Linked DNA regions of Homo sapiens: all the other regions are linked to region 2. Evidence: fine-mapped expression QTL. A gene starts in region 2. Each other region holds a variant in brackets. All regions are shown on one strand. Distances are from middle to middle.

What was found. PIP is the estimated chance that this variant, and not a neighbour inherited with it, causes the effect. A credible set is the group of variants that fine-mapping cannot tell apart.
Region 1: its variant is the best candidate, but not a certain one, in a credible set for the expression of TMEM252-DT in whole blood (TOPMed, PIP 0.59).
Region 3: its variant is the best candidate, but not a certain one, in a credible set for the expression of TMEM252-DT in whole blood (INTERVAL, PIP 0.85).

What each region holds. Positions count from the first base shown.
Region 1 is chr9:68,624,254-68,628,498 of GRCh38, reverse strand. TMEM252-DT (TMEM252 divergent transcript) reads right to left here. Exons shown (of 5, transcript NR_187592.1): 3 at 2,652-2,858. It overlaps LOC105376071 (a long non-coding RNA gene), which reads left to right. Exons shown (of 3, transcript XR_929902.3): 3 at 1,467-2,002. Among named protein-coding and RNA genes, the nearest start is that of PIP5K1B, 79 kb to the left of the region's middle. The variant C/T (reference allele first, on the strand shown) is at 2,398.
Region 2 is chr9:68,538,947-68,543,191 of GRCh38, reverse strand. TMEM252-DT (TMEM252 divergent transcript) reads right to left here and starts at 2,167. Exons shown (of 5, transcript NR_187592.1): 1 at 1,962-2,167; 2 at 550-814. TMEM252 (transmembrane protein 252) reads left to right here and starts at 2,309. Exons shown (of 2, transcript NM_153237.2): 1 at 2,309-2,655. The coding sequence starts at 2,378.
Region 3 is chr9:68,473,613-68,477,857 of GRCh38, reverse strand. All of the region lies in intron 7 of PGM5 (phosphoglucomutase 5), which reads right to left. Among named protein-coding and RNA genes, the nearest start is that of TMEM252, 65 kb to the left of the region's middle. The variant C/T (reference allele first, on the strand shown) is at 2,064.

The DNA.
Region 1 (4,245 bases), 85 kb before region 2:
CCAGTGCCATTTTCAATACATCAAGATCAACATCCTACACTGAACATTCTTAGTGACCCATAGTCTGGGTGAAGGTCATTACACTCTCAGGGATTTGAATTAGAACACAGGTAAAGCTAAAGAAAGTGGGAGAAGAACTTGGAATTAGAAAAAGCCCAGTTCAAAGATAATTTGTATTTTACTGACATGTTCAGCATAGTATGAACTCTGGCTCTGCCGAACATCCAGTCTGCCTCATGTACAAAAGTTGCTGATCCAGGGGCCGGGTGTGGTGGCTCATGCCTGTAATCCCAGCAATTTGGGAGGCCAAGACAGGCGGATTATGAGGTCAGGAGTTCGAGACCATCCTGGCTAACACGGTGAAACCCCGTCTCTACTAAAAATACAAAAAAATTAGCCGGGCATGGTGGCGGGTGCCTATAGTCCCAGCTACTCAGGAGGCTGAGGCAGGAGAATGACATGAACCCAGGAGGTGGAGCTTGCAGTGAGCCGAGATCACGCCACTGCACTCCAGCCTGGGTGACAGAGCAAGACTCTGTCTCAAAAAGAAAAAAAAATAAAATTTGCTGATCCATTGCAGGAGAAAGTTATAGAGAAATGTACTTCAATTGTATGCCCTAAATAAACTCCATGGGGCCCCATGTAAATGAAGGAATGGCAATAACTAGGAGTGGTAGTTGTTTCCCTCTCAGTCATTGTACTTTTGAATAGGAGTCATTGTACCAACCGTTTAACATATTCATATGTTCCTGGTACTAATGAGGTTGGTCTATTTTAACCTTTTTTGACAAGGAAGAAATGGCAGGCAGGCAGGTGTCCAAAGCACTAATCTATGAAAGGACAGTTTCCTCTGTGTTTGCAACAGGTGGAATGCTTCAGCCGATAGAACTGTATTCTTTGTTATGTTTCCTAAACAGAGCACAGTTTAGTCCTCAAATTTGCCAAGCAGGTCCATTTGCACACCTCTTGTTCACATTATTTCCTCTGACCATTCCAGTCAGAAACCATGAAATCAAAGTCACCTCATTTGTTTTTTGTTTGTTAGACACTTATGTAGCGTATCTTATGTGCCAGAGACACTTTTAAAGGAACAGCTCATTTAAACCTTGTGTTAGCTGTATCAAGTAGGGACCACTATTATCCCCATTTTACAGATAATGAAACTGTGGCACAGAGTGGTTAAGAAACCTTCCCAAGTCACACAGCAAATATGTGGAAGAGCTGATCCTCTTGACCGCTTTGCTATGTGCTCTTATCTTGGTCATGTGCTGCCATAACATGCATATCTTCGCTATACCATTGTTAATTCTTCTGATTGCCAGGGGAACATATTTTCCTACTATTCCCTTTATACATTTTCCTTGCTGTTCTTGTGCTGAGTTGGCATTGATATATCAGCCAGGTTTTATAAGTGTTGGGAAAGCTCGCCATGGTGTTCTGATTATAACTGCATGTGTGTCCTGCAGACCTGCTTTCATCCATCACTGATGCATGAAATAGAGCACCTTTAATACAGCACCTGAGACCCCAAAAAGTTAGGCCAAGTTGGTGCAAGAACACAAAGAACCATGGACTCGCTAATTTTCAATAGATGACCAACTGCCACCTGAACTTCTGAATGGGTTTTTCTCTGAGCCCACCTGATATGCTCTACTTCAGTGGGAGGTGGGCAGTGATAAGAAGTCAAGAAGACTTGAATTCCTGCCAACTGAGAGACAGCTGAAGGAAATGGGAACATTTATCTTGGAGAAGAGAAATATGGAGGCCTCAAGGACTGGCATCAGACAGCTGACTCGCTGCTATGTGCAAGAAGGAGTGGGCTTATCTTAAGTTGTCCAGAGTGCAGTAGAAAATGGAAACTCTGGGCAATCAGATTTCAGCTCAATGTAAGTGATTTCTCTCTATTGTTGTTTTGTAAATTTTTGAGAAAATGGTTTTAAGTGATAGAAATAGCAACATACTCTTTATAAAAAATAAAATCAAACAATAACAAAATGTCTAAGGTGGAGAGTAAAAGCCTCTTTTCCTTTACCCACTCCCACTCCCTAGGAATACCCTTGATATCTATCCTCCCATGTCCCCTATCTATGCACATGTAAACGTGCTATCCATACATATACATATGCCTACTACGTGTCCCTATAAATTTCCTGTATTTTTGTCTGTTTTCAAATATATGGCCATAAAATGGGTATATCTCAGAATGTAATGAACAAGAAAGGCCCTTTAAGAGTAAATTTCTGTGATTTCCAAATGTTATTTTACAGAGATGCCCTGCTGAAGGATCTGAAATATATGACTTTAGTTATTGACTGCAAATATTCAAGTTGTTCCACAATTTTAGTTAATCTGACTTGACTTTTTTTATTGAAAAAAATTTACCAGATACCTACAAAA[C/T]GGAAGTAGGCATTTTGTACTGATACTTATTCTTAAGAGAAAGGATATTCAAACAATTTAAGCTATTCAAAAATGGATGAGCTGCTTAGACGTTTTAGCCACTGGCTATGTTCAAATAGAGGCTGGTTGACCAGTTGGTTACAACGTTATAGAGGTGATTAATGCCACAGATGGGAAGGTGGGGAGAGTTGGACTGGGTGCTTTCCAAGATCCATTCAGTGCTCTGATTCCCTGACTTCCTATGCTCTGCTTACCTGGGCAGTGAAAGATTGCAGGTGGTGCCCTATGAAGAGGAGCAGCCAAATGGCTCCTGCTCCCCATGGCAAGAACCGCAGGTGCACACACAACCTGGCTGGGTCCAGGGCCACTCACTGACACGTGGCTGGTGGACAGAAGCGCCTGCAGGCAGTAATTCTTGTTCCAGCTGCTCTGTGAGCATTCGGGGCTTTCAACTTTGGTACCTGGATTTAAAAGAAAACAAATTCCTTTCTAAACACTGCAGGTTTGAAATTGAAGCTAATACTGTACATTCTTAGGAGCCTGGCAGTGCAGGAAATTACTCCTTCACCTGTTTCCTATTTTGACATTTCATTAAGATGGAATTTAGTGGCTAGAAAAAATAATATTAAAATATTTGACCTTAAAAAAAAACACTGGTTAGAGTCTTCAATGTTTAGAACTCCCTCGGCTTGTGCTTCTTTTCCTTTTGAAAAAAAATATATAACTCCTAGAAAAGTTGCAAAAAGAATATGTCAAACCCCTGTATACTCTCACCTACATTCACCAGTTATTGACATTTTGCTATATTTGCTTTCTCTATATGTACATTTATTATTATTATTATTGTTAGGAACTATTTGAGATAAGTTGCAGATATCATGACCTTTCCCACCTAAACACATTGGCAAGTGTCTCCTAAAAACAAAGACATAGTGCAATGATCAAATTTAGGAAATTTAACACAGCTTTGAATCTCTTACTGAATACAATCATATCCAAGTTTTGCCAGTCTTTCCAATATTGGGGTTTATAACATGTTTTCCCAACCCAGGACTTTGTATTTCTACATAGTTGTCATGCTTTTTTTTTTTTTTTTTTTTTTTTTTGAGACGGAGTCTTGCTCTGTTGCCCAGGCTGGAGTGCAGTGTGCTATCTCGGCTCACTGCAAGCTCCGCCTCCCGGGTTCACGCCATTCTCCTGCCTCAGCCTCCCAAGTAGCTACAGGCGCCCACCACCACGCCCAGCTAGTTTTTTGTATTTTTAGTAGAGACGGGGTTTCACCGTGTTAGCCAGGATGGTCTCCATCTCCTGATCTCGTGATCTGCCCACCTCGGCCTCCCAAAGTGTGGGGATTACAGACTTGAGCCACCGCACCCAGCCAGTTGTCTAAGAAGCCAGTTGCTTCTTTAGTCTCTTTTATTTGAGAATGAAAAGGCTCCCAATTTTTGTCTTTTAAGACACCAGCATTTTTGAAGAGTGCAGGCCTATTTTTCTGTAACATATCTCTGGGATTTGTCTGGTGTGAGATTCAAATTATGCACACACTGTGTCCTTCTCAGTGTGTCACATTAGGGGGCACCTGATGTCAGTTTGCCCCATTGGTGGTGAAGGTAACTTTGATCATGTGGTTAAAGTAGTATCCGTGTGACTGCTCCACTTCTGGGGAATCTCTCCCTCTTTAGAATAAATAATCTATGGGGAGGTACTGGTGGTGTCACCCAGATTTCTTCACTCTAAAACATTTTTCCTTTGTGGTAATAATCTTCAGGAGGATAATTTTAGACTGGGTAAATAGCTTGTTTACAAACAAACTTGTTTTAGCATCCATCCATGGCCCTTGCCTGAATC
Region 2 (4,245 bases):
CTAAAACAGAGAAGCCCAACTGTCTGATGGGCAGTTCCGATTGAGAGTACTCTTCCTCCATCACCTGATTCTTAACATTATCCTGGGGCTTTACCATCTACCTGTTCCTGGGACCCAACTCCTAGTGCAGACCTTTCAGCTGGGGGTCCTGGGTCTTCCACAGATTTTTGGAATTGTAACAGCAATGATAATAACAATATTGGTGATGGTGATTATAGATAACCTTCACAGGGCACTCTCTGTGCCAGGTACTATGATAAATACTTAACATTGATTGTCTCTTCTGATTTTCAAAGTTCTAAGAGAATTTTTTTAGTTATCTACTGCTATCTAAAAAATGGCCACAAAACTTAGCATATTTTTAAAATATACTTTTTTTAAACTTTTGACCTCTTTTATTTGTTAAAATAGTGACATCCATAAACATGAAATGATTTGATCATAATGCATTCATTGATTATGGCTCTTGCCATCTTGTGGCATCCAGGACCCTGGCTGAAACGTTTTATCTCACAGTTTCTGTGGGTCAGGAATCCGAGTATGACTTACCTGGGTCCTCTACTTCAGGGTCACTGAGTCAAGGTGATGCTTGGGAGCAGAGTCATCTCAAGGCTCAGTGGGATGAGGATTTGATTGCAAGCTCACGTGGTCATTGACAGGATGCAGTTCCTCATGGGCTGACGGACTAAGGGCCTCAGTTCTTCAGTGACTGTTGGCCAGAACCTGCCCTCAATTCCTTGCCTCATGGGCCTCTCCAATATGGCAGCTTCCTTCTTCAAAGGGCGTAAGCCAAGAGGACAATAGAGAGAGTCTGCTAGAAAGATGAAAACCACAATCTTGTGTAGCCTCCACGGAAGTAACTTCCGATCACCGTTACCATATTCTATTGATTAGAATGAAGTCACTAGGTCCAGCCTACACTCAGGGGAGAGGATTACTTACACAAGGACATGAATATCAGGAGGTGGGATCCTTAGGGATCATCTTAGAAATATTCCATCTCACAGTTTGGGGAAGGAGGGAATAAGAGCTGTTTTAAGATTACAAAGACAATATCAAGACTAGAAGATCAAGGTAGTTCAAGGTCGAAATTGAAGCTAAGAAAGGTAAAGGCTAAGGGTTGGAATGGAGAAGTGCCTTATATAGTTTTTGATCCATAGTGTGTACCTCTCTAATATCCGTGTCTCCCAGCCCTAACATGAAGGTAGAGCTAAGGAGATGGTGAGTGTGAGACTAAAGGTTATATGAGGGATTATTAGGGCACGCCACAAAAAACTGCTGCTCTCATTGGGAAAGTAAATGGAAAATAATGGTAATGGAGTAGTGGAGTGGAACAGCAGCAAAGAGGAACTGAAGATAAGCTATCCTGAGTAAAAGCAACCCAGGGTTCCTATGGGAAGGAGACTTTTGGCAGAGACATGCCACATTATCAAATAAAAAAGGGCAGAGCCAGGGCATAAAGCACGTCTGAAATAAGCTATCCACAATCAAAGACAGTCAAGCTAAAGAAAACAAATTCCAGCCAGGAAACAGAAGGCTGGTTCTGGAAAGATTTTTTGAGGCAATGCTACATAGAGCAGAGGTGTGGAGGAGAGGACAGGGAACATTTTTAGCAGCATCCTCTAAAACGAATTCTATTTCATATGTACTTTATGAAAGGGGGAAAGATTGCAGGAATTACAGGCCCAAAATCCCCCCAAATTCCCGAGGCTCTGTCTATTATAGTCCTTTTCTCCAGCACTCTCCTTTCCCTCCCACTCAGGCTCTTTCGATCTTGTCAACAGAGCAGGAACCACGAAGTTCACACTCTGAACTTCTGTCTTGGAATTATGCCAGTATCATAGTGTGGGGGCAATAAGTGGGGATTCATTGAGGGAGGCAAGACAAACATGTTAACAGCCTTGAAGAAATGCCTTTTTAGTACAGAAAAAGGGAGAAGGAATCAGGAAGGGATTTCTTACCAAACCTCAAAGAAGATCGTTCTTTAAAGAGTGCTAACTTCTCCAGCTTTTAGTGGGGAATTGCCCTCCATGGGGATTAAGAGACCAGCGCCTTTTAATCAAAGGAGGGCTGTACGTTCAAATAACTGGGAACAGCTGAGTGTCCCACCCAACTCTGAAGAACAAAACAGCTACACGAAGCCACTCCTGCCTGCAGTATACAATGCTATGTTTTTTGGCTAATTCTCCAAGGATATTACACTTACTTTCAATGGTTAATGAATAGCTTCTAAGTGCCTGTTTCATTTAGTTGTCCAAAGGCCAGTGGGTCCCAGAGCATATAAAGCTGCAAGCTGGCTAATGAGCTCATTCTCTTGGAGCAAGCAGGGAAGCAGAGGAGCAGCAGGGTCAGGGTGCTGGGTTCCTAAGGTGCAAGGATGCAGAACAGAACTGGCCTCATTCTCTGTGCTCTTGCCCTCCTGATGGGTTTCCTGATGGTCTGCCTGGGGGCCTTCTTCATTTCCTGGGGCTCCATATTCGACTGTCAGGGGAGCCTGATTGCGGCCTATTTGCTTCTGCCTCTGGGGTTTGTGATCCTTCTGAGTGGAATTTTCTGGAGCAACTATCGCCAGGTGACTGAAAGCAAAGGAGTGTTGAGGCACATGCTCCGACAACACCTTGCTCATGGGGCCCTGCCCGTGGCCACAGTAGACAGGTACGTGCTGACAGGCAGAGGGACCAAGAAGGGCTGAGATGGGCTGAGTTGTGTAAGATCTGAGTAATTTCTGATCCTACTATGGAGCGACTTACATGTCCCATGGGCTGTCTGTCTAGAACCAAAGCTTTATTGTCAGGGAATTACTCTGGGGTTGTTATTAGGAAGAGTGGCGCCATCTTTGGGGAAAACCATGACGCAGGGGCAACTCATCTCAGAGAAACCCTACCACCACCCCCAGTGAAAACCCACCTAAGCCAATTTAGAAACCCAGGCTCTTTTGTTATATCATGGCAGCTGTCATTAATTAGTGGCAGGTGATGGTTAGTTACTTCCCATAACCTGGCTATGAGGTTCTAAGGAAAGCAAGTCCCAGACCAAATTCTGCCACACAACAAATGAAGAAGCAGGCATAAAATGAGTCCTGGAATCTCTGTGAGCTCAGAAAAGTCCCAGTTTACTGTCCTTTTAGGTGTTGTGATCTCACCTTGCATAAAACATTCCTTCAGGGGAAGGTGATAATATTCTAGAGGCAAGATTCATTCTTTCTCGCCATCTCATACATTAGGATAGTTATCATCAAAAAACAAAACCAAACAGCTAGTGTTGGTGAGGATGTCAATAAATTGGAACGCTGTGCATTGCTGGTGGGAATGTTAAAATGGTGCAACCACTGTGGAAAACAGTGTGGAGACTCCTCTATACATTAAATATTGAATTACTGTTTGATCTGGCAATTCTACATTCTGAGTTTATACACAAAGGAACTGAAAGCAGGGATTCAAATGGATGTTTGTACACCAATGCTTGTAGCAACATTTATTCATAATAGCCCAAATGTCCATCAACAGGTGAGTAGATAAACAAAATGTGGTATATACATGCAATGGAATATTAGCCTTAAAAAGGAAGGAAATCCTGGCACATGCCACCACTTGGATGAAGTTGAAAACATTATGCTAAGTGAAACAAGTCAGTTACAAAGGGCAAATATTGTATAATTCCACTTACATGAGTACTTAGCGTAGTCAAATTCACAGACACAGAAAGTAGAACAGTGGTCCCAGGGGCTGGTGGAAGGAGAGACTGGGGACCTATTGTTTAATGAGTAGAGAGTTTTAAGGTGATGGTTGTAGAGCAATATGAGTGTATTTAGTGCCACTGAGCTATACACTTAAAAACAGTAAATTTTATGTCATATATATTTTACCACAAGAAAAAAAAGATTCAGTTAATCTTATAGTCAGTATCAGGCAACAAGAAACCTCCTAATTCTTGGCTAGCCACAGGACCATTTAGGGATAACACCCTAGGCATCATTCTCAAGATACAGGCTACAAGACTATAATTATTTTGCCCTCTTCGTGCAAGAGTAGAAAGTATCTAAAATATTTTAGCTACTCCATGTATCTTGAATATAAGTAATCTTACCCATGAGCATCCACTTTTGGCATCCTTTATGCTAATTAATAAGATAATAATTATGAAAACCAAAACTTATTTCCAATGTTATACTAACCAGCAGAGTTTCTGGGTTTGATTAAAAATTAAGAGAAATGAAGTGATTGTAGAAGATGCCTCTAGAGTGAT
Region 3 (4,245 bases), 65 kb after region 2:
TTTGTTTGCGGTACTCATCTGTAATCTATGGACAATAACAGCCCCTACCCCATGGGGTTACTGTCAGGATTAAGCAACTAAATATGCCCAGATGTTCAGAACAGTGGCTGGGATATCACATATCTTTGCTGTTGATCTTGTTGTTGGTAATTTTAATAAAGCTGTGTGAATTACTGCAAGGTGCTGATTCCTCAATACCTGCTTTCAGAAATTGTTCTTGGTTATTCATGTAATTTTATCCTCTCACTCTAGCAATAGTAATGTCTTAAGAAACAGGACTGGGTCCACAGAGTGGACCTTCTTGCAGCAGGGCAATGAGAATGGACAACAGTATTCTTGGGTTTCAGAACTACAAAACATACATGGAAAACCAACAAGGGAGACGCAACGCCACAGAGCTGTTTAACCCCTGAAAATGGGATCAAACAATACTTAAGTCAAACATCTTTGACAACTTCTAACTAAAGCTACAGACCATTTACCGTACTTGTGACATTTATGGTGTTAAATGTTAAACTTTTTTTCTCAATAAGGAAAACATGCAAACCTGAGGGGGGCTGTGAAGGTACTAAAATCAATAAGAAAAAGGGTCAGGTTTTTAGTTCTTCCTACACACTGATCAACGGTCTGCTAATGGCACTGTTGGATGTCCAGTTGTGGTTGCCTCTGGGTTAACAGGACCCTGGGCATTAATCATCACACCATGAAGTGTCTTTAGTCTTATCCAGTGAATTCTTTACACTGCTACAAAAATGGAAGAAGTTTGGAAGACTGAGTTAGCTCCATGGCCAACTGCCAAAAAACAAGTTTAGGAAACCCTGCCCAGTGGGATCACTTCAAAACCTTTTGTCCTTTTACAGCTGAAAAAAAAAATCACTTTTATTTACTGGCTAGAGAAAAATACCCTTTTGTTCTAAAACATGGGCTTTGCATACCTTCGAACTCCAGCTGGATTACATTACCTAGAGATAGAACCATTAGATGCTGTTAAATCTGTGAGATAAGATGTCATAATTTAGTGCTAGAGGGACATAAAGTTCTTTTAGGTGGATAAACAAAAAAACCCACCTCAACATTTGTAGCCAATTGCATAGTAAATTGTGAGTTGGCTTGGACATCCTTGCCTACAAGTTAAACATTTGCCAAGATTAATAAGGGGCTGATGATGAAGTAAAATTAACAATGCCCTTTATAGTTCTTTGAGTTTGGGACAGAGACATTAATGATGCTTCAATTACACAGATGTTTCCACTGGATGATTATAGTGTACTTTGGAGTGGATTTGGGGGCTATAACTCTCCTTTTAAAAAGGCTTTCAGGCAAGTGAACGCTATGCTGTATCAGTGACAGGCAGATTAAACAAGAAATTCCAGAAAGCACAAAGGTATCAAATGGTTTTCTAAAACCCCACTATAAACAGAGTAAAAATGGGAGTAGAAATGTTCACACTATATATATGACAGGGATAATAGGCTGGATATTTTTTTAATGTTTTCATAGGTCAATAAGAAAAAGAGAAACCTCAATGGACAATGGAATGAAAAGGCACAAGCATGCAATTGTCAGAGGAAAATAATAATAGTCAACATTGGAACAAATGTTCACCCTCACTGTGGTCAAAGAAAAGTGTGTAAAATGGGATACCATCTGGGGCCTGTCAGGTTAGCAAAGGTTTGACGGGGGAAGAGTTAACTTGGCAATAATGATCAACAGTCTTTAAAAATATCATGCAGCTTTCGACCCAGCTATTTTATTTCTTAACCTTAAGTCATAGGACATTCAATGAAGTAGATAAGAGAATAAAGAAAAATTGGAAAAATATTGTTTTGATTTTTCTGAGACAGGGTCTTGCTCTGTCACCCAGGCTGGAGTACAGGGGTTCAATCATGGCTCACTGCAGCCGCGACCTCCCAGGCTCAAGTGATCCTCCCACTTCAGCCTCTCGAGTAGCTGGGACTCAAGGTGCACACCACCATGCCTGGCTAATTTATTTATTTACTTTTTTAGAGATGGGGTCTCACTGTGTTGCCCAGGCTTAATTGTTGAACAATAGGATCATTGCA[C/T]AAAATTCATTCAAAACCTTGTGGGTAGACAAAATAAATCAAACAAGAATCTTTAGTAACACAGAAAACCATGTTTATTCAATTCTTTTCATTTTATTTTATTTTTATAGTTTCAGGAGGTACAAGTCCAGTTTTATTACATGGATATATTGCCTAGTGGCTTTTAGTGTACTCATCACTTAAATAGAAAACATTGTATCCAATAGGTAATTGTGCATTCAATTTTAATAAATGAAAAATCAGTTTACTAAAAAAGAATATTCAGTATATTTTTATAAAAAATATAGATATGTATATATGTGTGTACACAAGTAAACAGAAGAATATACACCAAACTCTTAACATGGTTATTATCTCTGAAGTGGTAGAACTGCAGATGCTTTTCCTCTCTTTCCTTTTAAATATTTTCGCAATAACAACGTATTATTTCATAAGAAAAAAATAAATTTTTAAAGTTGTTAGCCAGGCACGGTGGCTCACACCTGTAATCACAGCACTTTGGGAGGCCAAGGTGGGGGAATCACCTGAGGTCAGGAGTTTGAGACCAGCCTGGCCAACATGGTGAAACCTCGTCTCTACTAAAAATACAAAAAAAAAAAAAAAAAAAAAATTAGCCAGGCATGATGGCAGACACATCCATGTAATCCCTGCTACTTGGGAAGCTGAGGCAAGAGAATCATTTGAACCCAGAAGGTAGAGGTTGCAGTGAGCTGAGATCACACCACTGCACTCCAGCCTGGGCAAGAAGAGTGAAACTCCGTCTCAAAAAAAACAATAAATAAAAATAAAGTAAACAAAGTTGTCAATGGTGCATAGAAATTCACATTTAAAACATGCCTTTTCTAGAGTCATATAGTTGGGCTCATCTAGTATGTATTTTTTTATTGTCTTCTTTTGCTTAATAATATGCATTTATGGTTCCTTCATGTCTTTTTATGGCTTGAGAGTGAGTGTCTTTTTAGCATTGAATAACACCAGCACAATTTTTGAAGCTTGCTGCCTGGCTCAGGACATTGCAGGGAGAATATACCCATATTTCCAAAGCTGTAAGTACCACTCACCTTGCCTTTCTCATCCAACCTAGCCCAGCCCAAAGCCCACGCAATCTTACTCTGAGCAGCCCTGAGAAGCAGCCATCTCCATCCACATACCAGAAGGAGGGCGCTCAGCTCTTCTCTGCCATGACTCCAGCAAAAACTGGTACAAAAAAGAAGGCCTTTTTTTTTTTCTAGAGAAATATCACTGTTCCCCCTCCACTCAAATTAAACTTTGAATTTTCTCAATCTTCAAAACCATGCTACTTGAGCTAGGCAGGACACTAATAAGTATATTGCCCTCACAAAAGAAAAGGGAAAAATAAAGAGAATGCTCAATCATCTTAAAGATGTTTTCTTCACATGGAAACACCAGTATGGACACATCAGCTCAATAAAGCATCCCATGCATTACTAACAGATCAAGCCATTACAGCTGAAACTCAGATAAGGAAATTCTAAATTTGTCAATTAGGAAAACTATAAGTCAATTTGCACCTGTTGCCAACTCCAAGTTGTAACATATGTTGGCAATTTTCAACCCTGCACTGCACATTAGAATCACCCAAGGAGATTTTAAAAAAATACAAATGCTCAGGTCTCACCCTGAGCCAATAAAATAAAAACTTTTAATGATGGGGCCCAGGCATTGGTATTTCTTTTTTAAAAACTCCTTGGGTGATTTTCACAGGCAGCCGGGCTTGAAAGTCACTTGCTTCAGCAGAAAGGCACCGTATGCAGTCTCATGTTTGGGGCAGAATGCCTGGGGGTAGTGAGTGAGGCCTCTTCCTCTTTTTGCTTGAATGTGGTGCTAAGGGAAAGCAGCCATGGGTCTCTCATTTAATTCACGGCCCTGGCCTTGCTCACATGGGGGGGTTCTCACTGGAGTCAGCTTCAGTATCAAGATTTCTCCTTGCCATTTTCATCTGGAAAACTGAGGACTTTGCCAGCTTTGGAGTGACCAACTTATCCTGGTTTGCATGGGATTTTCCCACTTTTAGCACATAAAGTCCCACATCTCATGAAACTTCTTAGTCCTGGACAAACCAGGATTGTTGGTCATACAATAAGAGAGGCCACTCACTCAAAGAGGTTCCTGATTATTTTTGAAGCACAATCACAAGGAGGATAAATTCCATTCTAAGAAG